Linked DNA regions of Homo sapiens: all the other regions are linked to region 1. The links come from fine-mapping of genetic effects on gene expression. A gene starts in region 1. Each other region holds a variant in brackets. All regions are shown on one strand. Distances are between the middles of the regions. Region 1 holds the start of MYCL (MYCL proto-oncogene, bHLH transcription factor). Region 2 overlaps LOC105378667 (a long non-coding RNA gene). Region 3 overlaps BMP8B (bone morphogenetic protein 8b). Region 4 holds the start of LINC02811 (long intergenic non-protein coding RNA 2811). Region 5 overlaps TRIT1 (tRNA isopentenyltransferase 1).

Region 1 (5,102 bases):
ACAGTGAGCCGAGATTGCGCCACTGCACTCTAGCCTGGGCAACAGAGTGAGACTTGTCTTAAAGGAAAAAAAAAAAAAACGCAAAAACTAAAACATTAGAGTTTTGTGTTCAGTCATATACTCAGCACCCATGATGTGCCAGGCTTTGTTCTAAAGCCCTGGGGTACAGCCATGAATAAGGCTGACATTTGTCTGCCCTCATTCAGTTTACAGTCTGACGAGGAAGACATTAAACAAACAAAAGTATGCAAAGTGAAGAAGCAGTGTTAACTCTCAGAAGACAACTTAATTTCCTTTTTCCTACTTCTTGAGGAGGGGCAGCACCTCCTGGTTGCCCCCATATATCATCTACAATGAAACCATGGGAAGAGCTGCAGGGTGGGGGCTGTAGTCTAGGTAAAGAAGGCCCATTCTCCAAACATAAATTTCCAGCCTCCCTTGAGGTCTATACCACCAATTATTCCAATAAAGTCATTTTCTGCTTACATTTGTCTAAGGTTGGTTTTTTGTTTGTTTGTTTTGTTTTGTTTTTTTGTTTTGAGACAGAGTCTCGCTCTGTCGCCCAGGCTGGAGTGCAATGGCGCAATCTCGGCTCACTGTGAGCTCCGCCTCCCGGGTTCACGCCATTCTCCTGCCTCAGCCTCCTGAGTAGCTGGGACTACAGGTGCCCACCACGACACCCGGCTAATTTTCTTGTATTTTTAGTAGAGATGGGGTTTCACCGTGTTAGCCAGGATGGTCTCGATCTCCTGACCTTGTGATCTGCCCGCCTCAGCCTCCCAAAGTGCTGGGATTACAGGCGTGAGCCACTGTGCCCTGCCTAAGGTTGGTTTTTGTTATTTGTAACCAATAACCCAGACTAGTACAGCAACCATCTCAGACATCTGTGGACCAGAGAAAAGTCACTAAAGGACAATCCAATGCCTGTGCCTTGGGGCTGCAACCAAACCTGGAACCCTTCTGATTTGTGTCTTCCGTTTAGCACAAAGCAGGGCACACAAGCTGTCTCAGTGAAATCTGGTTAGCTGAGTCCCTCAGTAAGTCAGTTAGTTCACAAATGTCTGCCAGAAGCTGTTCTAGGTGCAGAAATCACAAAGCAAGTAGGAGCAGGTTTCTGCCTTCAAGATGTCCCACATGCAGCACAGACCCAACGTATCTAAAACGGAAGGCTGTCATTTTCCCTGCCTTCCCAACCCATATAACAACACACATCCGTGTCCCATGCTCCAACCACACTGAATTGCTTGCCCTTCTCACTTCCGTCTGCCAACAGTGAGTAGTTTGGTGTTCTTAGACCACAGGGGTGGGAGGGAAAGAGAGAGACAGCAGACAATCAGGCTGGGGTAGACAGACACCAGACCTTGATGCCAGGTGGAGGAATCTAGATGTATTGGCTGCTGTCCCAAGTTACTCTCCTCTGGCCTAAATCTCAGACTGGCCGTATAGTTTAATTTTTTCTCTTCCACCAAAGGTCATCTGTGTAGAAGATGACACAAAGGGGGACCCAGCACGGTGACCCGTGCCTGTAATCCCTGCACTTTCGGAGGCTAAGGAGGGAGGATCATTTGAGCCCAGGAGTTCGAGGCTGCAGCGAGTCATGATCGAGCCACTGCACTCCAGCCTTGACGCTGAGTGAGACCCTGTCTCTTAACAAAATATATTTAAAATTTAAAAAGAAGATTATACAAAGGGGTTATCTATCATCTTGGCCAGCAATGCAGGGCAAAACTTGAAACAACTTGGTCCTGCAGTATTTTCCAGATGCCAAATCCTCATTCTCTACTGTACAGCTCCTACAGTGTTTTGTGTGAGATGAGAGGGAGCATGGCGGGTCTCAGCTGGCTTTGCCCTGGGAAAAATTCCTCATTTCTGCACCGCCTCCCCAAAGCGGGGGCTAAGCCAGCGCCGTCTGCCTCTCCACCTAGACCAGACCCCTTCCCTAGATGCTCTTATTTCCCTGAAGCCTCACAACAACCCTGTGAGGTAAGCATTACCATCCCTTCATTTTACAGATGAAACTGAAGCTCAGGAAGGTTACGTTTCGGGCTCTAAATCCCGGAATCTTCGCTTCGATGCCATCCAGGCTTGGGCCACTGAGCTCAAGAAACGGGCCGACGGGTGACCAGACGGACGCCGGGACCAGCCCAAGTTCAGGGCTGAGGGCCGCCAGGTGGCGCGTTTCCCTCCCCCTACCCCTCGCGGCGGCTCGGGCGCACCTGAACCCAGCGGGGTGCGCCGGGGAAAGTAGGCGCGCAGGGTGGGGCGGGGAGTAGCCCTAATTCCCCAGCTCGGAGTGGGCAAGGAGCACGGTTTAGCTCAGCCGGCTGGCACCGCCAAGCGGCCGCCGGGCCGCATCAGCCCTCCTCCTGTTTGCGCTCCCCAGCGTGCAATTTATTTGGGGGGCTACCGGGGATTGAACGGAGCGGGCGAGCGCTGCCAGGAGGTGGGGCCGGCCCCACCTGTCGACTGCCCGTAGTAGGCAGGGAGAGGGCGGGGTTTGTCCCATAGGGCCCGCCCCCCAGTCCCTGGGTCCCGGGCGCGCGACGAGATATAAGGCAGTCAGGAAACAATGCGCCTGCAGCTCGCGCTCCCGCGCCGATCCCGAGAGCGTCCGGGCCGCCGTGCGCGAGCGAGGGAGGGCGCGCGCGCGGGGGGGGCGCGCTTGTGAGTGCGGGCCGCGCTCTCGGCGGCGCGCATGTGCGTGTGTGCTGGCTGCCGGGCTGCCCCGAGCCGGCGGGGAGCCGGTCCGCTCCAGGTGGCGGGCGGCTGGAGCGAGGTGAGGCTGCGGGTGGCCAGGGCACGGGCGCGGGTCCCGCGGTGCGGGCTGGCTGCAGGCTGCCTTCTGGGCACGGCGCGCCCCCGCCCGGCCCCGCCGGGCCCTGGGAGCTGCGCTCCGGGCGGCGCTGGCAAAGTTTGCTTTGAACTCGCTGCCCACAGTCGGGTCCGCGCGCTGCGATTGGCTTCCCCTACCACTCTGACCCGGGGCCCGGCTTCCCGGGACGCGAGGACTGGGCGCAGGCTGCAAGCTGGTGGGGTTGGGGAGGAACGAGAGCCCGGCAGCCGACTGTGCCGAGGGACCCGGGGACACCTCCTTCGCCCGGCCGGCACCCGGTCAGCACGTCCCCCCTTCCCTCCCGCAGGGAGCGGACATGGACTACGACTCGTACCAGCACTATTTCTACGACTATGACTGCGGGGAGGATTTCTACCGCTCCACGGCGCCCAGCGAGGACATCTGGAAGAAATTCGAGCTGGTGCCATCGCCCCCCACGTCGCCGCCCTGGGGCTTGGGTCCCGGCGCAGGGGACCCGGCCCCCGGGATTGGTCCCCCGGAGCCGTGGCCCGGAGGGTGCACCGGAGACGAAGCGGAATCCCGGGGCCACTCGAAAGGCTGGGGCAGGAACTACGCCTCCATCATACGCCGTGACTGCATGTGGAGCGGCTTCTCGGCCCGGGAACGGCTGGAGAGAGCTGTGAGCGACCGGCTCGCTCCTGGCGCGCCCCGGGGGAACCCGCCCAAGGCGTCCGCCGCCCCGGACTGCACTCCCAGCCTCGAAGCCGGCAACCCGGCGCCCGCCGCCCCCTGTCCGCTGGGCGAACCCAAGACCCAGGCCTGCTCCGGGTCCGAGAGCCCAAGCGACTCGGGTAAGGACCTCCCCGAGCCATCCAAGAGGGGGCCACCCCATGGGTGGCCAAAGCTCTGCCCCTGCCTGAGGTCAGGCATTGGCTCTTCTCAAGCTCTTGGGCCATCTCCGCCTCTCTTTGGCTGAAGCTGCCCGTGTAGTCCCCAACCGTGTCTGTCTGGCACGTGGGTGTGTTGGTAAACAGTTTGGAAAAGTGGCGTGGGAGCCAGCCTCCCTTTGATGATTATTGGAGCCCCAGGGGACAAGGGATTTGAGGTGAGGGTTGGCGCTTAGAGAGGACAATACTGGGGTTGGACTGTAAGGGATTGAAGGGGGTACCTTAAGAGACACTCCAAACCTGAAGTTTTTTTGCTGCTGCCTCTTTCCCTAGGAAACTCACACTCCCCTAGGGGGAGAAGAAGCCGAGAGCCTTTTGTGCAAAGCCAAAACCTTCGTCCTTTTAAAAACCTAGGTCTCCAGTTGGCTTTACTTTAAAATGCCAATAATAAATGCCCTCTTCTCGTGCCTCCCCACCACCACTTACCACTCGTGCATCCCTGAGACAGGGAGGGAAGAATGAACACTCCCCATTAACAGATGGAAAAACTGAGGCTTAGAGATAGACAATCACTACAAGTCAGCTCCAGCTTTCTGCCATCTAGCCAGCCCCTCTTCCCCAATGCTCCATCCCAACCAGGCACCTCTTCCTTGATGTTTGGGGTCTTTGTGGTAGCTTATCTTAGAAGCACTACACCTTGCCTTGCTGTTTGTCCTGAGATGGAAAAGTGTCCTTCTTGCTCCCCCTCAATAGATCTCCAGCGTCAGCTGCTCCCTGGCATTCAACAAATATTCACTGGCCCCTACTTTGTGGCAATCTGTGGGCTACATGCTGGGGTCAAGGCAGTAGAACTCCAGGCCCTCCTCTCCCATCCTTGATGCAAGTGCAACCTCGCTGAGGGCAGACTGGGGCATCCTGTGCCACTAAACTACATTGTTCTTATTCTGGCATCTTAGACCTCCACACCCGTGAGAAATCCTGGAGAGGGTATTTTTGTAGAGTGTAGACTGTGGCTAGTGACAAATAAATTAGGACCAAGAAAGCTCACTGTAGCTTTTAGGAATAACTTTTACACGACCATTTGATAGGGAACTGGGGAATGGGGTATGGAAGTTTTCCTACACTTGAGAGAAAAAATAGGATAACAAAAATTAAAAGTCTTTTTTTTCCTGGTCCACTGTGTTAAGGTCATTTTTAACCAGCTTGCTTTCTACACCAAGAGTTTATGTTTGTTTAATGGCTGGAAAGAGAATCTTGAGATCAAAAAACCAATAAAGATGTATCTCTACAACGGCTGGTGGAGTGGTAGAGTGGAAAGAGCATTGCTTTGGAAGTTGGACATTTTAGTTTGAGATCCAGAACGTTACAAAGGTGATATGTGGACTTCGCTGATCTGGGCCTCAGTTTCCCCATTTGCACAC
Region 2 (5,102 bases), 69 kb after region 1:
AGTTTGGGCTGACTCCAAACTCATACTCTAACCACAACCCTCTACTTCTGCAAGGGCATTTCTTTAGGGTTTTTGAATGTACAAATTTAGGGTTTTTGAATGTACAAATTATTTATATCCCATCTACTTCTAAGAAAGAATCAAAGGAAGAAAAGGTTAAAAAAAAAAAAAAGAAAAGACTGAAGAACTAACTCTTGTACAAAGATGTTTATGGCAAGAATCATGGTTGCAAATGAAACAACTCTAACTTAAGTAAAAAGGTGGATTTATGATTGGGTTAATGAGGTGTCTCATCAAATTCAAGGGCAGGAAAGTATCTAGGCTCCAGCCACAACTTGTACTACCCAATCTGAGGCTTTAGAGACTTTCTCTTTTCTCTGCAAATCAGCTCACTCCTCTCTCACTGTAAACAGGCTTTCTCTACATGGCAGGAGACAGGGCTGCTAGTAGCACCTGTGTTTCACCTCTTATGGCCTTGACAACTGGGGACAGATTGTGCGGATGTTTTCTCTGGTTCTAAGTTCAAAAGCCCTAGGACACCCCGTACCCATTAGAATGGCTGCTATAAAACAAAACAAAACAAATTAACCCAGAAGATAACAAGTGTTGGCAAGAATGTGAAAAAATTGGAACCCTTTGCACTGTTGGTGAGAATGTAAAATAGTACAGCTGCTGTGGAAAATAGTATGGCAGTTCCTCAGAAAATTAAAAAGGGAACCGCCATATGATCCAGCAGTCCCCCCTCTGGGGATATATCCCAAAGACCTGAAAGCAGGGTCTCAGGGAGATACACCCTTGTTCTGCATAGCAGCGTTCTTTACAATAGCCAAGGGGTAGAAGCAGCCCAGTTGTCCATCAAGAGTGAATCTAGGCCGGGTGTGGTGGTGCACACCTGTAATCCCAGCACTTTGGGAGGCTGAGGCGGGTGGATCACCTGGGGTCAGGAGTTCGAGACCAGTCTGGCCAACATAGTGAAACCCTGTCTCTACTAGAAATACAAAAATCAGCTGGGTGTGGCGCAGGCCTGTAATCCCAGCTACTTGGGAGGCTGAGGCAGGAGAATCACTCGAACCCAGGAGGTGGAGGTTGCAATGAACCGAGATCACGCCACTGTGCTCCAGCCTGGGCGACAGAGTGAGACTACATCTCAAAAAAAAAAAAAAAAAAAAAAGTGAATCTAAGGGCTGCACATGGTGGCTTGTGCCTGTTATCCCAGCACTTTGGGAGGCCAAGGCAGGAGGATCGCTTGAGCCCAGGAGTTCAAGACCAGCCTGGGCAACACAGTAAGAGCCCATCTCTACAAAAAATAAACAGATTAGCTGGGTGTGATGGTGTGTGCCTGTAGTCCCAACTACTTAAGAGGCTGAGGTGGGAGGATCACTTAAGCCCAAGAGGTCAAGGCTGCAGTGAGCTGTGATTGTGTCACCGCACTCCAGATCCTGGGTGACAGAATGAGGCAGACCCTATCTCAAAAATAAATAAGAGTGAGTGGATAAACAAAATGTAAGTACATATGATGGAATATTCACCCTTAGCAAGGAAGGAAGTTCTGACGCATGCTACAACTTTGAGGACATTATGCTGCATGAAAGCCAGTCAGGCCGGGCGCAGTGGCTCATGCCACATTGGGAGGCTGAGGTGGGAGGATTGCTTGAGCCTGGAGTTTTGAGACCAGCCTGGGCAACAGAATGAGACCCACCTCTACAAAAATAAAAGAATTATTACCCAGCACTCGGGGATGAGAGGTGAGATGATGCTTGAGCCCGGGAGGGCAAGGCTGCAGTGAGCCTTGGCGCCACTGCACTCCAGCGTGGGCAGCAAAGCAAAAAAAAAAAAAAAAAAAGCCAGTCACCAAAAGACAAATATGGTATAGTTCCACTTACATGAGGTATCTAGAATAGTCAAATTCATAGAAACAGTATGGTGTTGGCTGGGGGTGGAGGGAAGGGTAAATGGAGAAGTTTAATGGGATAGAGT[TTC/C]AGTTTTGTAAGATGCAAAAGTTCTGGAAATTAGTTGCACAACAATGTGAATATGCTTAACACCACTGAACTATACGCTTAAAACTACTTAATACACTTTCATACTGTAATACACTTAACATTACTGAACTATAAGCTTAAAAGTGAATTTTACCACCATTTTTTAAAAGTAAAAGTCCCAGGAAAGGGATCTTTTAGCCCAGCTTGAGTCTAGTGCTTATCCTGAGGCCCATCAGCCAGTCTGGAGATGGATTCCTGAAAGGACAGGACAGTTCCCATGGAAAGGATGGAGTGGAGGTGGAGTGATTCCCAGAGGAGAAGGGTGAGCGGGTTGGTAGGAGGGGAGGGCACCTGGGCAGACAAGCATTTGTGTCCACTGTGGAGTTGCTGTCTGCTAGTCAGTAAGACACTTGGTTTTCTAGCAGCAGGGCTGAGCTTAACTAAGTCCATATGCCTTCTGGGTGGTACTTGCCATTATCTTCATCATGAGATATCTGTAGTAGTCATTCCTTAGAAATTTATGGCCCAGTATGGTTTTAACAAAACTACATATCTTGTTAGTATTTGCCAAAAACATTTGAGGTCGTTTCTACAAATGAAGAAACAGACTCACAGTATTTCAGTGACTTAACACAGGGTTGGTGTTAGTTCAGTTGTAAGGGATTGAAAGCCAGTTTAAACTAATTTAGGTATAAAAGACGATTTGTTGGCTTATGGAATCTAAAAGTCAAACAACTGAGCTTCTCCTGAAAGGACAGGCAAGGTGCAGCTGGGCCTCAGGAACAATTGCTCCCAAGGACTCAGACACTACCAGCACTGCCTCATCTCTTCTCAGCGTGCCGATTTCACGTTTCTCTCCATGCAAACCAGCTTTCTTCACGTGGTCGTGGTCATTGGAAGCTGCCACACCTCACATCTTACAGCTTTTCTTCACTGAAAAGAAGTGGACCAAATCCCAAGTTTAAAAGCCCCAGGAAAAGACGCAATTGAGTAGAGCTGAATTCTGTTGTCTACCCTTGGATTAAGAAGGACAGCGTACCATCTAAGAACATGGCCCTCCCTGTAGAACAGTATGATAGAATGAAGCCAGGGAACACGAGAGTTTTCAGGAAGAGGGCAGGGATGGGATTGGTGCTGAGTAGACCAAATAATAGGTGTCCATAGCAGTGACACAGAGTAGGTGGCAGATGAGAGAACTCCAGGTCCTCTGACTACAACCCTGACTAGCGCACCGTAACTACCGAGTACTTCCCATGCAAAAGGAAGGCCCTATCTCTGCAAGAACCGTGCATGGTGCATTATCAAGTGTGAGGCTGGGGTCAGACTCTGAGTCACCAGAAGTGAAGTGACAAATGACCTGAAAGCAAGGCATAAAGGAAAACCATTTAAGTCTGTGCCTTCTGCCTGAGCCTCCTTGTTAATATGAAGGGGATCGAGGTATAAAGACTTTTTATATTTTTGAGACAGGGTCTCACTCTGTCACCCAGGTTGGAGTGCAGTGGCACTCCTGGGCGCAGGTGATCCTCCCATCTTAGCCTAGGGAGGTTGGGACCACAGGCACCTGCCACCATGCCCAGGTAATTTTGTTTTTTTGTAGAAATGAGGTTTTGCCATGTTGCCCAGGCTGGTCTTGACCTCCTGGTCTCAAGCGATGCTCCCGTCTTGACCTCCCAAAGTGCTGGGATTATAGGTGTGAGCCACTGTGTCCGGCTCCAAGGTATAAAGACTTACATAGAAGTTATTTGTGGATTCAAAAATGTCTCTGTGTCTTGCTGGATCTGCATAATGAAGTCAAGTTGCTTGGAGACTGGTGGGTTCCTGATGGCAGACAAAAGTGTCAGCTTACTCTCTCTGAACTTTGGCAGTCAGACTCTTCAAGTGCTTTTTAGAAACTACCTTCTTTTTTTTTTTTTTTTTTTTTTTTTGAGATGGACTCTCTCTGTCGCCCAGGCTGGAGTGCAATGGCGCGATCTCGGTTCACTGCAACCTCCGGCTAATTTTTGTACTTTTAGTAGAGATGGGGTTTCGCCATGTTGGCCAGGCTGGTTTCGAACTCCTGAAATCTCAGGTGATCCACCCGTCTTGGCCTCCCAAAATGCTGGGATTATAGGCGTGAGCCACCGTGCCCGGCAAAACTACCTTCTTACTACATTCGTGGCTTTCTGTTGTTTTAAATATCAGCATGTAAAGGGTGCAGAGAATTCGGTGATCATGTTTCAGTTGTTTTCAAACTTGTTTTTAGCTGTGGATCCTTTTTTTTTTTTCCTTCTCCCAAGTCATACATGAATTGCAATATATAATATATACTGAACTAGACTGGCTTCAGGTCTGGGTAGGGTGCACAGTCTTCTGGTCCCTCTGATTTAGTGCCCACCCCCTTCCCCGCCCCCCGGCTGTGGGACACACTTTGAAAATCTCTGATCCAGATTAGCCACATAATTGAGCAGACAGAGAAAGTGAGTCCCAGAGAGGTTAAGTAAGTCACCAACAGCAACACAAAGAGTTAGTAAGTAGCAGAGCTATGCCTGGAACCCTGGTCTCCTGGTTTAGCAGTAGTGTTCTTTTTACTGGATTATGCCACTTCTAGTTATTTTGAATTAAAAAGTAGTTGTATTTTTCATCAGGTACGTGGTAAGTTGAACCAGTTCTGGACTAATATGAAGGCAAGTAGAGGACTTTAGGAGTCAAACAGCTTTATAATTAGGAATACCTATTAATTCAACAGACTTAAATGAGTGCTTATCATTCACTATTCTAGGTGCTAGAGATATATCAGTGAACAAGACAGTTCCTGTCTTCAGAGAGCTGGAGTCTTGCATGCTATCCCAGTGAATATGATAAATGCTGTAATAGAGTCGTTTAGGGAATACACAAGATTTTACCTGACTCGTTCTAGAAGAGTCTGGGAAGGCTTTCCTGAGGAAATGGCATCTGAAAAAACATGAGGCCTGGCACCAAGGCTCACGCCTGTAATCCCAGCACTTTGGGAGGCTGAGGTGAGGGGATCGTTTGAGGTCAGGAGTTCGAGACCAGGCATGGTGGCATGTGCCTGTAGTCCCAGCAACTCACGAGGCTGAGGCAGGGGGATTGCTTGAGCCCAGGAGGCAGAGGTTGCAGTGAGCC
Region 3 (5,102 bases), 120 kb after region 1:
GGGGATGTGGGACAGAGGAGACCATCTGTGAAGCTGGGGCTGGGGCTCTGTCATCAGGACAGGCTGACACTGGGCTCAGGACCAAGAAGAGTTGTGGATGGAGTCGTCCAAGAATGTCCCCAGGGAGCCGCCCATCAGAATGCGTCACCACCCAGCCCACATCCGACCTCCCCTGGCATCCCCTGGGTCAAGGCATGCACAGCCTGGTGGGGCTATTGCTATGAATTGGGCAGGGCCTACCCCTCTGTGTGACCTTAGGAAAGTTCCTCACCCTCTCAGCCTTCGTTGCTCCTTGTAAAATGAGGTGCCTGGTGATCTGTCCTCAGGGTTGTTGTGTGATTGGTAGAGGGGCAGGAGTAGAAAGCCTGTGCTGCTCCCCTCAGAGGGTGAACCTGGACCTGGGCACTGTTGGCCCCAGGCCCTCCCAGCTGTGGCCTAGTTCGGAGGTGACAGGAACATCTCCACATGTCTTATACACATGTAAAACCTAGAAATGGATTCTAAAAGCCAATCAAAAAGTGTTTGTACCTGTTTTTAGAATGAAAAGTAGCATGTGAACTTTCACAGCCTTACAATTCCTCATTTAACTCATGTGAGACTGTTTTGCCAGCCCTGTTTCATGGGCTCAGAGAGGTTAAATAGCCAGCCCAGGGCCACACCGCACATCCGGGGTGACATCCACGGCTGTGGATTTCAAATCCCAGCTTCTTCCCACACCAGCTTTGTGCATTTCATGAAGACTTGGGGCCTCCAGCGCTGCGAGATTAACAAGCAGATCATTGTTAGTGGAAGCCCAGGCTGTGGGTGGGCGCAGCCAGCTGTCAGAAAGGCCTTCTTTATTCTGCTGTGCTAACTGCACTAGTAGAACTCTCTCAGTTAGAGTAGCTTTAACTGGTAATTACTGAGGCTGGGTGGGGCGGTGGGGGGGCATGGATTAGACACATACCAGGATGCTCTCCATGTTTGGAGGCCCCTGGAGGTTGGTGGCCCTTCTCCTGCCTCAGCCTCCCGAGTAGCTGAGATTACAGTCATGTGGGCAGAGGCCACCACGGGATCTAATAGCAGGGTCACTGTGGTGTCACCGCCCACACGCAGGCTCCCACACCTGCTCCTGCCGGCTCCACCTCTCCTATCAGCTTCATCTGACTCCTGAATAGCCAGGTCTGGTGCCCGTAGGGCCCAACTCTTGATGGCAGCCTGTGGGACCCAGGGGGCGGGGCTCTCATAGGCCTCCCACCATGGCTCAGGTCTCCGTGCAGAGCAGGTGCTTTAGGAAGCCAAGCCTGCGTCCTGATGTTCAGAGCCTGCACTGGGAGGCCAGGGCTGGGGTCAGAGCCGGGGCCCTGCCTGGCCTGTCATCCATATCAGCCTGTAGACCTGGGCTCTCTTGGGCAGGACAGTGATGGAGCGGTTGGATTCTGTCCCTGGTCTCTCTGTGCTCAGGGAGGGGAGAGCCCTGAGCTGGGAGGCAGGACCCAGGTTCTTGTGCTGCCTGGGCCCACCATTAACTCCTGCATGTCCTGAGCCACGGCCCTTCCCTTCCCTGGGCCTCTGCTTTCTCGTCCATTCTACGGTGATGGCATCAGAAAAGCAAGGTGCCTCCCAGCCCTGACCCTGTGGCTCTGTGGCAGAGGCGCCTTCTCACAACACCGCCATGCCTTGGCCCCAGTGCCTCAGGGCAGCCCGGCCCCTCCTGAGGGAGGAAGGATGGCAGGAAGGACCACCTCTGCACACTCCTTCTGAATCCTTCTCCACCCATCTCAGCAGAGAGGCAGGTGCCCATGTTCCAGATTGAGAAACTGAGGCATAAGCAGGCCTAGCAGGCAGAAGTCCAGCCAGGATCAGAATGCAGGCAGCTTCATTTTTGTCCTGATCCCTTCCTGAACCAGACAGATTTGCTCCTGTGGTCTCCGGTGGCCATGGACAGGGGTGTTGATGAACAGAGCCGTCTGGATTTGGGAGAAGCAGGACTGAGTGGGAATTCGGGACCTGGCCCGGGTCCTGCTCTGCCCTTGCCAGCCGTGTGACCTAGAAGGGTGGCACCATCTCCGTGGGCCCCAGGGCCACTTCCTTTGGTTCTTTACCAGGGACCTCTTTCATTTTCCCATTCATTCATTCAGCAAATAGTTCTGTAGCACCTACCACGGACCAGGCAGAGTTCTAGTTGCTGGGGATATAACAATGAGAGAAGTAAAGTCCCTGCCCTCAGGGAGATGACTTTCTAGTCTAGAGACACATAATACATACATGAGCCCTAAAGGTAATTGTCGGGTGTGCTAGACAGCAACGCCCCATCGGGAAACAGGAGGGGCTGAACAATGGCAGGACAGACAGGGCTAGATTGGGGGTTTCTGACCTGAGACCCACACACAAGGAATTTGCATCCTGACGCCAACACCTGATCTCAGTGTGATCTGGGCTTTCCAGTCAACCTCCCCAAGCCTCAGTTTCCTCCTCTGTAAAATGGAGATACTCATCTTATGGGGCTGTTGTGGGCTTGTGTGAGATGATACCCAGCGATGCCCACGTGCCCAGAACCTCTGCATCTCTTCCTTCATTGGTATCTCACAATTGCCGTCACATCTGTGTTTGAAAGAGAGGAGAGAGAGGCTCAGAGCAGATAGGTGGTTTTCCTAAGGCCACACAGCAGATTGTCCCCCTGCCTCCACATCTTCTGCTCTTCTCCAAAATAGCAGCTGCCTCTCCACACAGCCCAGGGCCTGGCCCACCGTTAAATGCAGTGTGTGCTGCTGAAATGGACTGTGTTGAATGGGAACGTGTGATGTAAACTGAGACTACTGCTTAAAAAATATGTTTTTATTTTCAGAGACAGGGTCTTGCTCTTTCACCCAGACTGGAATGCAGTGGCATGGTCATAGCTCACTGCAACTGCAAACTCCTGGCCTCAAGCAATGTTCTCACCTCAGCCTCCTGAATGGCTAGAACTACAGGTGTGCACCACCATGTCCAACTAATTGCTTCAAATCTTTTGTAGAGGCGGGATCTCATTATATTGCCCAGGCTGGTCTCAAACTCCTGGCCTCATCTGATCCTCCTGCCTCAGCCTCCCAAAGTGCTGGGATTACAGGCATGAACCACTGTGCCCAGCGTTTTCTTTTCTTTCTTTTTTTTAACTGC[A/G]TACGTTAATGCTCACTGTTTTGCAACTTTGTTGTTTTTCATTTAACAATAAATCTTTTATCCATCTTAAAAGTCAACTATTAGGGTGACTGTATGCCCAAAGGTATTTGTCCTTGCAATAATTGAAGGTGGGTCCCTTTTCCCCAAAGTTCTGTCTGGCCACCAGAATGGTGCACCCTTTCCATCCCTAGTGACTGGTCCTACCCATTTCCGCAGTGTTTTCTCACCCCTGAGTAAATGATTATGACTGCCCTCATTCACAGAGGAGGAAGCTGAGTCTCAAAGAGTGTAAGTGACTGGCCCCGGGTCCTGGATGCACAGACCCACAGGAGCAGATATGAAAGGTAGATCACAGCTGTAGGAGGGTAGGCCCTGGAAGTGGGGCAGCAGAGTGGTGGTTAGTGACCCTGGAGTGGGGCTCACTGGCTTTCAATTCTGAGTCTACTGCTTAAGAGCTATGAGCTGTTGAACAGATCATTTAAAGTCTCGGCATCTCAGTTTCCTCATCTTTAAAACTGGGATAATAATGCCTGTATCCGGCCAGGTGTGGTGGTGTGCGGATCACTTGAGGTCAGGAGTTCAAGACCAGCCTGGCCAACATGGTGAAACCTTGTCTCTACTAAAAATGCAAAAAAAATTAGCCAGGCATGGTGGCGCGGGACTGTAGTCCTAACTACTCAGGCGGCTGAGGCGAGAGAATTGCTGGAACCTGGGAGATGGAGGTTGCCTGGGAGACAGAGCAAGACTCTGTCTAAATAATAATAATAATGCCTGTATCATAATACAATGATTAAATAGGTTAAGGCACATAAAAACCTAGCAAGTGTCTGGCCAGGCACGGAAGCTCACGTCTGTAATCCCAGCACTTTGGGAGGCCAAGCGGGGGCGGATCACCTGAGGTCAGGAGTTAAAGACAAGCCTGGACAACATGGTGAAACCCCGTCTCTACTAAAAATACAAAAATTAGCCGGCTGTGGTGGCAGGCGCCTGTAATCCCAGCTACTTGGGAGGCTGAGGCAGGAGAATTGCTTGAATCCAAGAGGTGGAGGTTGCAGTGAGCCGAGATCGCGCCATTGCACTCCAGCCTGAGCAACAGGAGCGAAATGCCATCTCAAAAAAAAACAAAAACAAAAACAAAGCAAGTGTCTGGCACTGCTCAATAAGTGGCTGTATTATGAGGGAAGGGCCTGCGGATTATGCCCCATCCCCCAGTCATTTACTTAGGGACCTAGAGCAGAGTAGTAAAAAGCATAGCTCCAGAATCTGACCAGGCTGCCTGGGTGAGATCCTCATTCCACCTAGGCATCCTTGTAGTGGATGCTGTGGGGGGCTTCCCAGAGCTTCTCTTCAGCATTGAGTCGCTCGTGACCCAGCTGCCTGGAGTGCCGGCTGCTGACAGCTCACAGGGGAGTCCTTCTCTAGGTTTTTTTTGTTTTTTTTTTTTTTGAGATGGAGTTTTGCTCTTGTCACCCATGCTGGAGTGCAATGGTGCGATCTTGGCTCACTGCAACCTCCTTGGGTTCAAGCAATTCTTCTGTCTCACCCTCCCAAGTAGCTGGGATTACAGGCACCCGCCACCACGCACGGCTAATTTTGTATTTTTAGTAGAGATGGGGTTTCATCATGTTAGTCAGGCTGATCCTGAACTCCTGACCTCAGGTGATCCACCCACCTCAGCCTCCCAAAGTGCTGGGATTACAGGCGAGAGCCACCACGCCCTACCCTTCTCTAGGTATTGATTGACTGGGCCTAAAGAACTGCCCAAGGTTAGGCACCATCCCTGGGGACACCCACCATCCAACAGCTGGTCTATGGCAGTACCAGTGCCCAGCCCCCTTGCCTTAAAGAGAGACAGCTCTAAAGGGCCACCAGCCCCCAGAGCTCCCAGTGTGGTCTCAGTTGTCTGAGGCCTTTGTTGTGGGTGCATCCAAAACTTGCTCCCTTCATTCACTACAAAAAGCAGT
Region 4 (5,102 bases), 82 kb after region 1:
CCAGAGGCATTCCATTGCCTCAAGAATTAGTATTTTTATAGTAGGAATGCACAAAGGAAGGGGAAAAAACAACATTTAGTTTTTCAACTTCCAAACTAGACCTCAATGTGGTCACCCGCATGAATAATTTTGAAAGCCAAGTGCTCAGCTTTATGGAGAGAAAGGATTTTGAGAACCCAAAGAATGACCCTGAAGGAGGCAGAGTGTAAAGTTAATGCCTTAGAAGTGAGCTGGAAGGAGCCTAGAGGCGTGTCTGCCCCATCCTGCTCACAGGGAGGCTCGTTAGGGATAGCTCATGCTTGGAATAGGGACACGAGTTGATTTTGGAAGAGATCAGAGTGGCCTGAAATGGAAGCAAAGATGTGGAGAGGAGCAAAGTCAGCCTCAAGAGATGCCCAGCAGCAGGGCCGGTGCGTTACAGCAGCCGAGCAATACCAGTAAGCATCCGTGGCCTCCAGTTAGCACAGCCGTCACCCGAGCTGAGGAGCCACAGTCACCGTCCTGCTCCTCACTTGCTGGGAAATTTTTCTTTTTCTTTTTCTTTTTTTTTTTTTTTTTGAGCCCGAGTCTTGCTCTGTCACCCAGGCTGGAGTGCAGTGGCACGATCTCAGCTCACTGCAACCTCTGCCTCCCAGGTTCAAGTGATTCTTCTGCCTCAGTCTCCCAAGCAGCTGGGATTACAGGCACGCACCACCTCGCCCAGCTAAATTTTTTTTTCTTTTTTTTTTTTTAAGTAGAGATGGGATTTCACCATGTTGGCCAGGCTGGTCTCAAACTCCTGGCCTCAGATGATCCGCCTGCCTTGGCCTCCCAAAGCGTTGGGATTATAGGCACCAGCCAAGTTTTTCTTTTGTCAGCTGCACACTGTTGCCCTTCAATCACCCAGCGGAGGTGATGCCCGCCCATGCCTGGCCCCTTCAGAACCATTTCCTGTGGACACTCACTTTTTCTTTTCTTTTCTTTTCTTTTCTTTTCCTTTCTTCTCTTCTCTTTTCTTTCTTCCCCCTCCCCTCCCCTCCCCTTCCCTTCTTTTTCTTTCCTTTTCTTTTTTTGAGACAGAGTCTCGTTCTGTCAACCAGGCTGGAGTGTGATGGCACCATCTTGGCTCACTGCAATCTCCACCTCCCAGGTTCAAGGATTCTCCTGCCTCAGCATCCAAGTAGCTGGGATTACAGGTGCACGCCACTATGCCCAGCTATTTTTTGTATTTTTAGTAGAGACAGGGTTTCTCTATGTTGACCAGGCTGGTCTTGAACTCCTGACCTCAGGTGAGGTCCTTGAACTCCTGACCTCACCCGCCTCAGCATCCCAAAGTGCTGGGATTACAGGCATGAGCCACTGCGCCTGGCCTGGACGCTCACTTTTCATAACAGCTCAGGAGTCTTGTAAACTTCATGAAGAGTGGGATCTTGACACTGTCAATGCTGTGGGAAACAAAGTCTCTAGCACCTGAGTTTGGGAGAAACCAGACATGGAGACGATCCGTTTCACATGACCACATGCCAAGCCAGACTGAGCCTCTGCGGAGGCAGCAAGCACTGAGTTGGATTCATCTCTGTATCCTGAGCACATGGCTGGTACTTGGTGATTACTGTATTGAGAGAATGAATGAAAATCACAGTCTAGTGAGGAAAACAGACACATAAACAATTTTAAGACACCCTGAGTGCTGTGACAAGGGACTATAGCAATCACAGAGTGAACAGAAGAGGAAAAGGGCCCAGCGACACTGGGGATCTCCTGCAGTGACACCAGGACTAGCACACTGGTTTCTTTGCTGCCCAGAGCACCATTGGAGTAGATGCCCCTGGGGATGCCTGCCCAGCCTATAGGCTCTCCCTCGGCACCACGGGACTGGTCCCTGGCGGCCCCTCAGCCATGGGCTGTGGGTGCATGACCCAAATTGGGCAATGGGTTCCCTGTCCCACAATCTTGCTGTTGGGATTCAGAGAAGCCAGTGTGCTTCCTCTGGTTACTTGACCTGAGACCTGAGAGCCAGCCATGTTTGGCCATGAGAGAACTGGGGGAAGTCGTGCTGCTCAGAGGTATAAGAGTGAAGCAGATGTGCAGAAAGAGGGTGGATAGGAGACAGTGAGGCCCAGAGAC[A/G]GAGAGGAGCTTCCGGGCTTCTCATTCTTCAGATCCTGGTTCTCAGGCCTCTTGAGGTCTGGCTGCCCCTACCCTCGGGTTCCATGTGCCATCTCTGAAGACGTGATTAAAAGCTCTCAGCTGGAGCTTGCCTGAGTGAATTTCTGTTCTGTGCCACTGATTCTTGGTTAGCATTGTTCCCACTGATGGTCACCATCACGCTCAAGATCACAGCAGACATTTCCATAGCCCTCACCACGTGCAAGACTGTTCTGAGAGCTTTACATGTAACGACCCATTAAATCCTCGTAATAGTCCCATGAGGTAGGACAACTATCATCCCCATTTTTACATTTTCTTCTTCTTTTGTCCTCGCTTTTCAATAAAGAGATGGAGCTAAAGAGAAGATAAGTAGTAACTTGTTCGTGGACATACAGCTAATAAGTGTATGAGCTCATATTCAGCATTGCAGTTTTATCACATTTTATTGAGCAAAAGTTTGTACATATTTTTTAATTGGAAGAATGCAGTTCTAAATGCCAAGCACCAAGAGGGCCCTGAGTGAGTCCCTTCTCCTGTCTAGGCTCAGGATCCTTGCCAGAAGCATGAGGCCAGGTGGGCTGGGAACCAGCCTGCTCAGCCCGCCCAACACATCCTGCCTCTCACTTTCCCGGGACTGGCAGCGGAAGCGCGGGAAGGAGCTGCTGGGCCGGGTACAGGGCTTGGCGGCAAAGTGGGTTGTGCAGCGGGAGGCCAGAGCCGCGCCCTGGCACCTGGCAGGCAGCCCAGCCCCACCGTTGAGAAAATACCTACAACAAAGGCATCCTCCCACCAACAAAGGCGTCCTCCCACCAACAAAGGCATCCTCCCACCAACAAAGGCGTCTTCCCACCAACAAAGGCGTCCTCCCACCAACAAAGGCGTCCTCCCACCAACAAAGGCGTCCTCCCACCACACTGGCCACCTCTCCTTGTCCCTGCAACTCCTTGGCTGAGGAATCTGACTTCTGGGCCAGGACAGGTTGGGTCCTTACATGGCCTCAGGAGGCTACAGAGAGGCCTTGGGGCCCAGCCTGGAACACCTTCCTGGCTCTCCTGGGTGGACGTCCCAGAGAGTGGTCCTGGTTCACCCCACATTGCATAGACTCCAGGCCAACTGCCACCCGGGCACGGTGCTGCGCTTCCTGAGCCTCCGAACACTGCCATCCTCCTCCATGATGTCCGAGGCAGGTGGCTTCACAGATCTAGGTCCTGGAATCCCCCCAGCCAGGAGCTCCCCCTCAGAGCAGTGGCTTGTCTTATGTGCACTCTGGACACAGGTGTGTCTGTGGTGAACAAGAAATGGCCCTGCAAAGGAATTTGGACATAATCCACAATGGGCGTTTGGGAGAGTCAGTCTGGACTGGGGCCTGGGAGAATGAAAAGTCAGGAGCCCCTGAGACTCCAAGAGTGTTGGCATGGGTCTTGGCGGACATATCTTAAGCAAAGCACTAGAAGCTCCTCTGAGAGGTCCAGCCTCCTGAGGTGGTAGCCCATGGCCAATTCCATCCCTCCTTCTCCTGAGCAACACCTGAGGGCCATGGGTTTGGGGAAAAGACCAGCTTGCTGCAACTCTTTCATTCAAATAGCAACTGGCCCTGGAGCTCCAGGCCAACATCAAGCCTTGCTCCACCCCTGCGCTTTAGGGACTGTTGCCATCAGGGCACTGCCAACCTATGTGGTGCTCATGATGACTCAGAAATAAGAACCTGTTTCCTCTAGGCTGATACAGCCCTGCTCCAGCCCCCAGCAGTGCCAAGTGGAGCAGGGTGTGGACTGGCCTTCAACCCCGCTCACCTCTCCTCTATATGGTCTTGTGCAGACCCATCCTGCACTGTCTTATGCAGGTGCAATGCCTGTTAGGATAATCCCAAACATGACCCTGGGCCCCTGATCCCCAGGCCAAACCCCACCCCCTGACCTGGATATTCCCTGGGCTGACAAAAGGAGTTCGGCCAGGGAAGGCTCCTCTTCACTGGCCCAAACCAGCTTCAGACAGCGGGGCAAGGATGTAGGAGCCTTCTTCCCAGCAGAACCCCCGGCCCTGGAGTGGCCCCAGATGAGGCAGCTCCCATCTGTGTGGGTAGCCCTGAGGCTATCCTGAGGGCAGGATGCTGTGCAGGGGAGGAACGGACCTCCATTATGTGATTCTGGGTGGAAGGTAAACAAACCCTGGTTAGGCAGAGGTGGCACAAGCCCACAGCCTTGGGCTCAGCCTTCTGTCTCCCGAGCTCACTGCTCAGTGCCCAGTCCCAGGAAGCCCACAGGCTCTAGGCCTAGCCTGCCTCAATTTCCATTTGTTCCGCCCCCTCATGCACCTCAGGGCCCAGGGTGGCACCAGTGCCCACCACAGAACCAGGCTCAGAGCACATGTGGCACAAATGCTCATGGGATGAATGACGGACTAAAAGAATCATCCAGGCTGGGTGGGCATGGTGGCTCACGCCTGTAATCCCAGCACTTTGGGAGGCCAAGGCAGGAGGACTTGAGTCCAGGAGTTCAAGACCAGCCTGGGCAACATAGCAAGACCCTATCTCTACAAAAAAATTAAAAATCAGCCAGGTGTGGTGGTGCATGCTTGTAGTCCAGATACTTGGGAAGCTGAGCCCAAGAGGTCAAGTCTGCAGGGAGCCATGATTGCACCACCGCACTCCAGCTTGGGCGACAGAGCAAGACCCTGTCTATAAAAAAGAATCATCCAAAGGAAGAGGGCGCTCCTGAGGCAGGTGTGGGCATGGGCACCGTAGCCCGTAGCCGCAGCTCCTCCACTCCTGGCTTGGGCCTCTAAGCCTCACTTCCTCTCCCGTAGAACACTCATGAGACACACCTGCCTCGTGTGGGCCTGGGCAGCTTGCTGTTACTAATAAAACAGCAGCAACACAGGACAGCTTCACTTCCTGAAACTCCCTCTGTCACGTGCTTTGCATGAATCCTCACACCGTCTCACCAGGGGCGCTCTCCCAGTTTCACCAGTGACTT
Region 5 (5,102 bases), 29 kb after region 1:
ATTTATTTATTCATTCATCCTCCATCCCATTCTTTTCCTCTGTACCACTGTGTACATTTTATCAAGCAGAAAAGTGGGAAGAATAATATTACTGACAAAAGAACAGTATGGGCAAAGTTAAGAAAATGCATGGTATGTTTTCAAGGAATGACCAGCAACTATCTGGCATAGAGGGTACTTGAGGGACAGTGGTAGGAGGTAAAACTAAAAATATAGACCCTGGGAACAAATTTTTGAGGCCCTCAAAAGTCATGCCATGAGGTTTGAGGTTTTAAAGAGGGAAGTGGTAGTAAGTCTATTTTTTTTTTTCAAGACAGAGTCTCGCTCTGTCACCCAGGCTGGAGTGCAGTGGCGCAATCTCAGCTCACTGCAACCTCCACCTCCCGGGTTCAAGCAAGTCTCCTGCCTTAGCCTCCTGAGTAGCTGGGATTACAGACGCATGCCACCACGCCTGGCTAATTTTTGTATTTTTGGTAGAGACAGGGTTTCACCATGTTGGTCAGGCTGGTCTCGAACTCCTGACCTCGTGATCTGCCCACCTCGGGCTCCCAAAGGGTTGGAATTACAGGCGTGAGCCACTGCACCTGGCCTGTAAATCTATTTTATGAAGTAACTGGGTGGAGAGTGGGTTAGAGAAGGAAAAACAGTTTAGGATTCTGTTACATTAGTCTGGGTGAGAGAGGCTGGAGTTGGGCTTTGGCTGGAGAGAATAGGTAACCATTTTGATATTTTGTAAACAGAACCAACAGGATTTTGGTTATTGAATTGGAAGCACTATGAAAAAAATGAGAACAAAGCATTTTTGTGTTCAGAAAAATGAGACATGCGGGGGCCGGGCACAGTGGCTCACGCCTATAATTCCAGCACTTTGGGAGGCTGAGGCGGGCAGATCACCTGAGGTCAGGAGCTCGAGACCAGCCTGACCAACATGGAGAAACCCTATCTCCACTAAAAATACAAAAAAATTAGTCAAGCATGGTGGTGCATGCCTGTAATCTCAGCTACTCAGGAGACTAAGGCAGGAGAATCACTTGAACCCAGGAGGCGGAGGTTGCAGTGAGCCGAGATCACGCCATTGCACTCCAGCCTGGGCAACAAGAGCGAAACTCCATCTCAAAAAAAAAAAGAAAAGAAAAATGAGACATGCTTATTAAAAAAATCCAATAATACTGAAAAGTACAGAGACAATTTAACCATAGTCTTAGCATCCTGGAGTAATGATTTTGGTTCACATCCTTCCAGACATTTGTATATATATTTAAGCACATGTGTCATGTGTGTATATGTTATTACATAAATTGACTCAGAGGTTAGATACTATTCTATTTTCTTTTAACACTATGTTATGGATATCTTTATATGTTAATGTATATAGCTATATCAGTAGTCTCAACTTGGGGTGATTTGGCCTCCTAGGGGACGTTTGGCAATCCCTGGAGACATTTTTGGTTCTAATAACTGGGGAGGTGGGTTCCTGGCATCTAATGGGTAGAGGCCAGAGACATTGCTAACATTCTAGTAGGCACAGGACAACTTCCCATAACAGAATTATTTGGCCCCAAATATTAATTGTACTAAAGTTAAGAAACTGTCCTATATTATTGTTTTTATAATTTTTTATTGATTGATTGATTGAGACACGGTCTTACTGTGTTACCCAGGCTGGTTTCAAACTCCTGGGCTCAAGCAGTCGTCCCACTTCACCTTCCAAGTAGCTGAGATTACAGGTTTAATTTTGATTTTGAAATAGTTGTAGATTTTTATTTTTATTTTTATTTTTTTGAGACAGAGTTTCGCTCTTGTTGCCCAGGCTGGAGTGCAATGGTGTGATCTCGGCTCACTGCAGCCTCCATCCCCCGGGTTCAAGCAATTCTCCTGCCCCAGCCTCCTGGGACTACAGGCATACGCCACCATAACCAGCTAATTTTGTATTTTTAGTAGAGATGGGGTTTCTCCATGTGGGTCAGGCTGGTCTCGAACTCCCGACCTCAGGTGATCCATCCGTCTCTGCCTCCCAAAGTGCTGGGATTACAGGTGTGAGACACTGTGCCTGGCCCGAAATAGTTGTAGATTTACACAAGAGTTTCAAAGATAGTACCAAGAGTTCCTGTATACCCTTCATCTACCTTGTCCTAATATTAATATCTTACATCATCATGGTACATTTATTAAAACTAAGAAATTGATATAGGTACAATACTATTAACTAAATTATAGTCTTGGATTTCACCAGTTTTTTCACTTATGTCCCTTTTCCATTTCAGGATTCAATTTAGGATACTATACTGCAGTTAGTCATCATGTATCTTTAGTGTCCTCCAATCTTTGACAGTTTTCAGTCTTTCCTTGTCTTTTACGACCTTGATACTTTTGAAGGGTACTGGTCAGCTCTTTTGTAGATGTCTCTCCATTTGGGTTTTGGTTTCTCATGATTAGACTTGGCATTATGGATTTTGGGAAAGTATACCACAGAAGTGAAGTACCCTTCTCATTGGATCATATCAAAGTATGATATCAACATAGTATTAGCATGGCTTATTACTGGTGATGGTAACTTTGATCATTTGGTTGAGATTGTATACACGTTTCTCCACTGAAAAAGTCA[C/T]GATTTTTCTCTTTTTGTGTTATTTTTCTTTTCCATTTCCATAAAATGACAGTACCTAGTCTTATTTGTTGGAAATCATTTGCCAAGTCTGGCCCACACTGAATAGAAGGAGAATTAAGCTTCATTTCCAGGATGAAAGCTTATCAAATAATTTGCGGACATATGTTAAAAGCACCACAGTAATTAATAAATATTTTAGGGGAGATACCCTCAGGCTATGCAGATGTCCTATTTCTCCTTAAAGTTTCACCCTCTGATTTTAGCATTCATCAGAGTCTTTCTTTTCTTTCTTTCTTTTTGTTTTCTTCCTTTCTTCCTTTTCCTTCCTTTTCCTTCCCCTCCCTCACTTCTTCCCTTCTTCCCTCCCTCCCTCCCTCCCTTCCTTCCTTTCTCTCTCTTTCTCTCTCTCTCTGTGTGTGTGTGTGTGTGTGTGTGTGTGTTTAGTACTTCCTGTCTGGTATTACAAGATGCTTCTAGTCCCTTTCAGTGGAAAGAGCTAGGAAATGTATGTATGTATATTAATCTATATATACACACATTTATATTTATTTCTCTATCTGTATGTATATTAAAATAAGCATGGGTTTATACTGGTATCTCTGACTAATCCAGCACCACAAGATTCATTCTAGTCTTCCCCCCTTGCTTATTTGTGACTTCTTTCTCAGAGTAAGAAATTTAGCTCTCATTCCCTATAGTATATTTACTTATTTGTGTAACCTGTAGTTTCAGTGATTACTCCTGTGAGAAACAGATTTACCAACTAGAGTACAATGTTTGCCTACAGTTTGTTTGTTTGTTTTTATCCTTACAGTATCGAGTAGTAACATTGTTTTATGAAGTTACTTAGATCAGCTCCTTTTGTTTTCCTCTCTGAGGTTATATCAGACGTTTGTAATGCAGTTAGATTTCATTTGTTACAGTCTGTAGTCTATCCTGGGTTCCCAGATATTCTGGTTATTTTAAAAAATTTGCATACAGTGGCCAGCTGCAGTGGTTCACACCTCTAATCCAAGCACTTTGGGATGCCAAGGAGGGAAGATTGCTTGAGCCTAGAAGTTTGAGATCAGCTTGGGTAACATAGTGAGAGCCCATCTCTACAAAAAAAAAAAAAAAAAAAAAAATTAGTCAGGCCTGGTAGCACATACCTGTAGTCCCAATTTCTCCTGGCTCAAGCAGGAGGATGGCTTGAGCCAGGGAGGTCAAGGCTGCAGTGAGTCATGATGGTGCCACTGCACTCTAGCCTGGACAACAAAGCAAGACTCTGTCCCAAAAAAACATTTTTAAAAATTTTTTGCATACATATAGTAAAGTGTACTCTTTATGATGTTTAGTTCTATGGGTTTTGACAGATGCATAGAGTCAGATATATACCCCACAGTACCATACTGAACAGTTCTATCACCCTAAAAAATCCCTTATAGTGGCCCCTTTGTAGTCAACCCCTCTATCTCCTTCAATCTCTGGCAACAACTTACCTGTTTTCCATCCCTATTGTTTTGCCTTTTCCAGAATGTCTTAAAATGTAATCATACAATATGTAGCCTTTGAGGTTTGGCTTTTTTCACTTAGCAAAATACATTTTTTTAAAAGGTAGATTGATTGATTGATTGGAGACAGGGTCTCATTCTGTTGCCCAGGGTGGGGTGCAGTGGCGCCATCTCGGCTCACTGCAGCCTCAACTTCCTGGGCTCAAGCAATCCTCCTACCTCAGCACCCCAAGTAGCTGGGACTATAGGCCTGTGCCACCACACCTGGCTCATTTTTGTATTTTTTGTAGAGACGGTTTCACCACGTTGCCCAGGCTGGTCTGGAACTCCTGAGCTCAAGCAATCCACCTGCCTCAGGCTCCGATTATAGGCGTGAGCCACTGCACCTGGCCAGCAAAATACGTTTAAAATTCTTCCATGTTGTTGCATGCGTCCAATGCTCTTTATTGCTGAGTAGTATTCCACTGTTTGGATGTACCATAGTTTGTCTAGTCACCTTTTTTTTTTATGAGACGGAGTTTCTCCCTTGTTGCCCAGGCTGGGGTGCAGTGGTGCAATCTTGGCTTACTGCAACCTCCGCCTCCCGGGTTCAAATGATTCTCCTGCCTCAGCCTCCCGAATAGCTGAGATTACAGGCATGTGCGACCACGCCCAGCTAATTTTGTATTTTTAGTAGAGACATAGTTTCTCCATATTGGTCAGGCTGGTCTTGAACTCCTGATCTCAGGTGATCCGCCCTCCTCAGCCTCCTAAAGTGCTGGGATTACAGGCGTGAGCTACCGCGCCTGGTGTCTATTCACCTATTAAAGGACATCTGGGTTTCTGGTTTTTGGTGATTATAAAGAAAGCTATTGTAAACATTCATGTACAGGTTTTAGTGTGAAATTTCATTTGAGTAAATACCTAAGAGTGGGATTGCTAGGCTGTTTGGTAACTTTATGGTTTAACTTTACAGGAGACTACCAAACTGTTTTCTAAAATGACTGTACCATTTTGTATTTCTCCCA

Evidence for each region.
Region 2: its variant is fine-mapped to the expression of MYCL in whole blood (TOPMed, PIP above 0.99). The same link has a PIP of 0.9 or more in blood mononuclear cells.
Region 3: its variant is fine-mapped to the expression of MYCL in whole blood (TOPMed, PIP above 0.99).
Region 4: its variant is fine-mapped to the expression of MYCL in whole blood (TOPMed, PIP above 0.99).
Region 5: its variant is fine-mapped to the expression of MYCL in whole blood (INTERVAL, PIP above 0.99).

The regions. Positions count from the first base shown.
Region 1 is chr1:39,899,482-39,904,583 of GRCh38, reverse strand. It overlaps MYCL (MYCL proto-oncogene, bHLH transcription factor), which reads left to right and starts at 2,667. Exons shown (of 2, transcript NM_001033081.3): 1 at 2,667-3,645. The coding sequence starts at 3,150. RefSeq lists silencers at 2,094-2,303, 2,564-2,883, 3,294-3,413.
Region 2 is chr1:39,830,666-39,835,767 of GRCh38, reverse strand. LOC105378667 (a long non-coding RNA gene) reads right to left here. Exons shown (of 4, transcript XR_947221.3): 3 at 3,711-3,797. Among named protein-coding and RNA genes, the nearest start is that of LINC02811, 16 kb to the right of the region's middle. The variant TTC/C (reference allele first, on the strand shown) is at 1,978.
Region 3 is chr1:39,781,634-39,786,735 of GRCh38, reverse strand. The region is part of intron 1 of BMP8B (bone morphogenetic protein 8b); the gene reads left to right. Among named protein-coding and RNA genes, the nearest start is that of BMP8B-AS1, 4.2 kb to the right of the region's middle. The variant A/G (reference allele first, on the strand shown) is at 3,139.
Region 4 is chr1:39,817,393-39,822,494 of GRCh38, reverse strand. It overlaps LINC02811 (long intergenic non-protein coding RNA 2811), which reads left to right and starts at 5,035. Exons shown (of 4, transcript NR_186710.1): 1 at 5,035-5,102. RefSeq lists enhancers at 4,739-4,908, 4,757-5,102. The variant A/G (reference allele first, on the strand shown) is at 2,107.
Region 5 is chr1:39,870,696-39,875,797 of GRCh38, reverse strand. The region is part of intron 1 of TRIT1 (tRNA isopentenyltransferase 1); the gene reads left to right. Among named protein-coding and RNA genes, the nearest start is that of MYCL-AS1, 9.9 kb to the left of the region's middle. The variant C/T (reference allele first, on the strand shown) is at 2,606.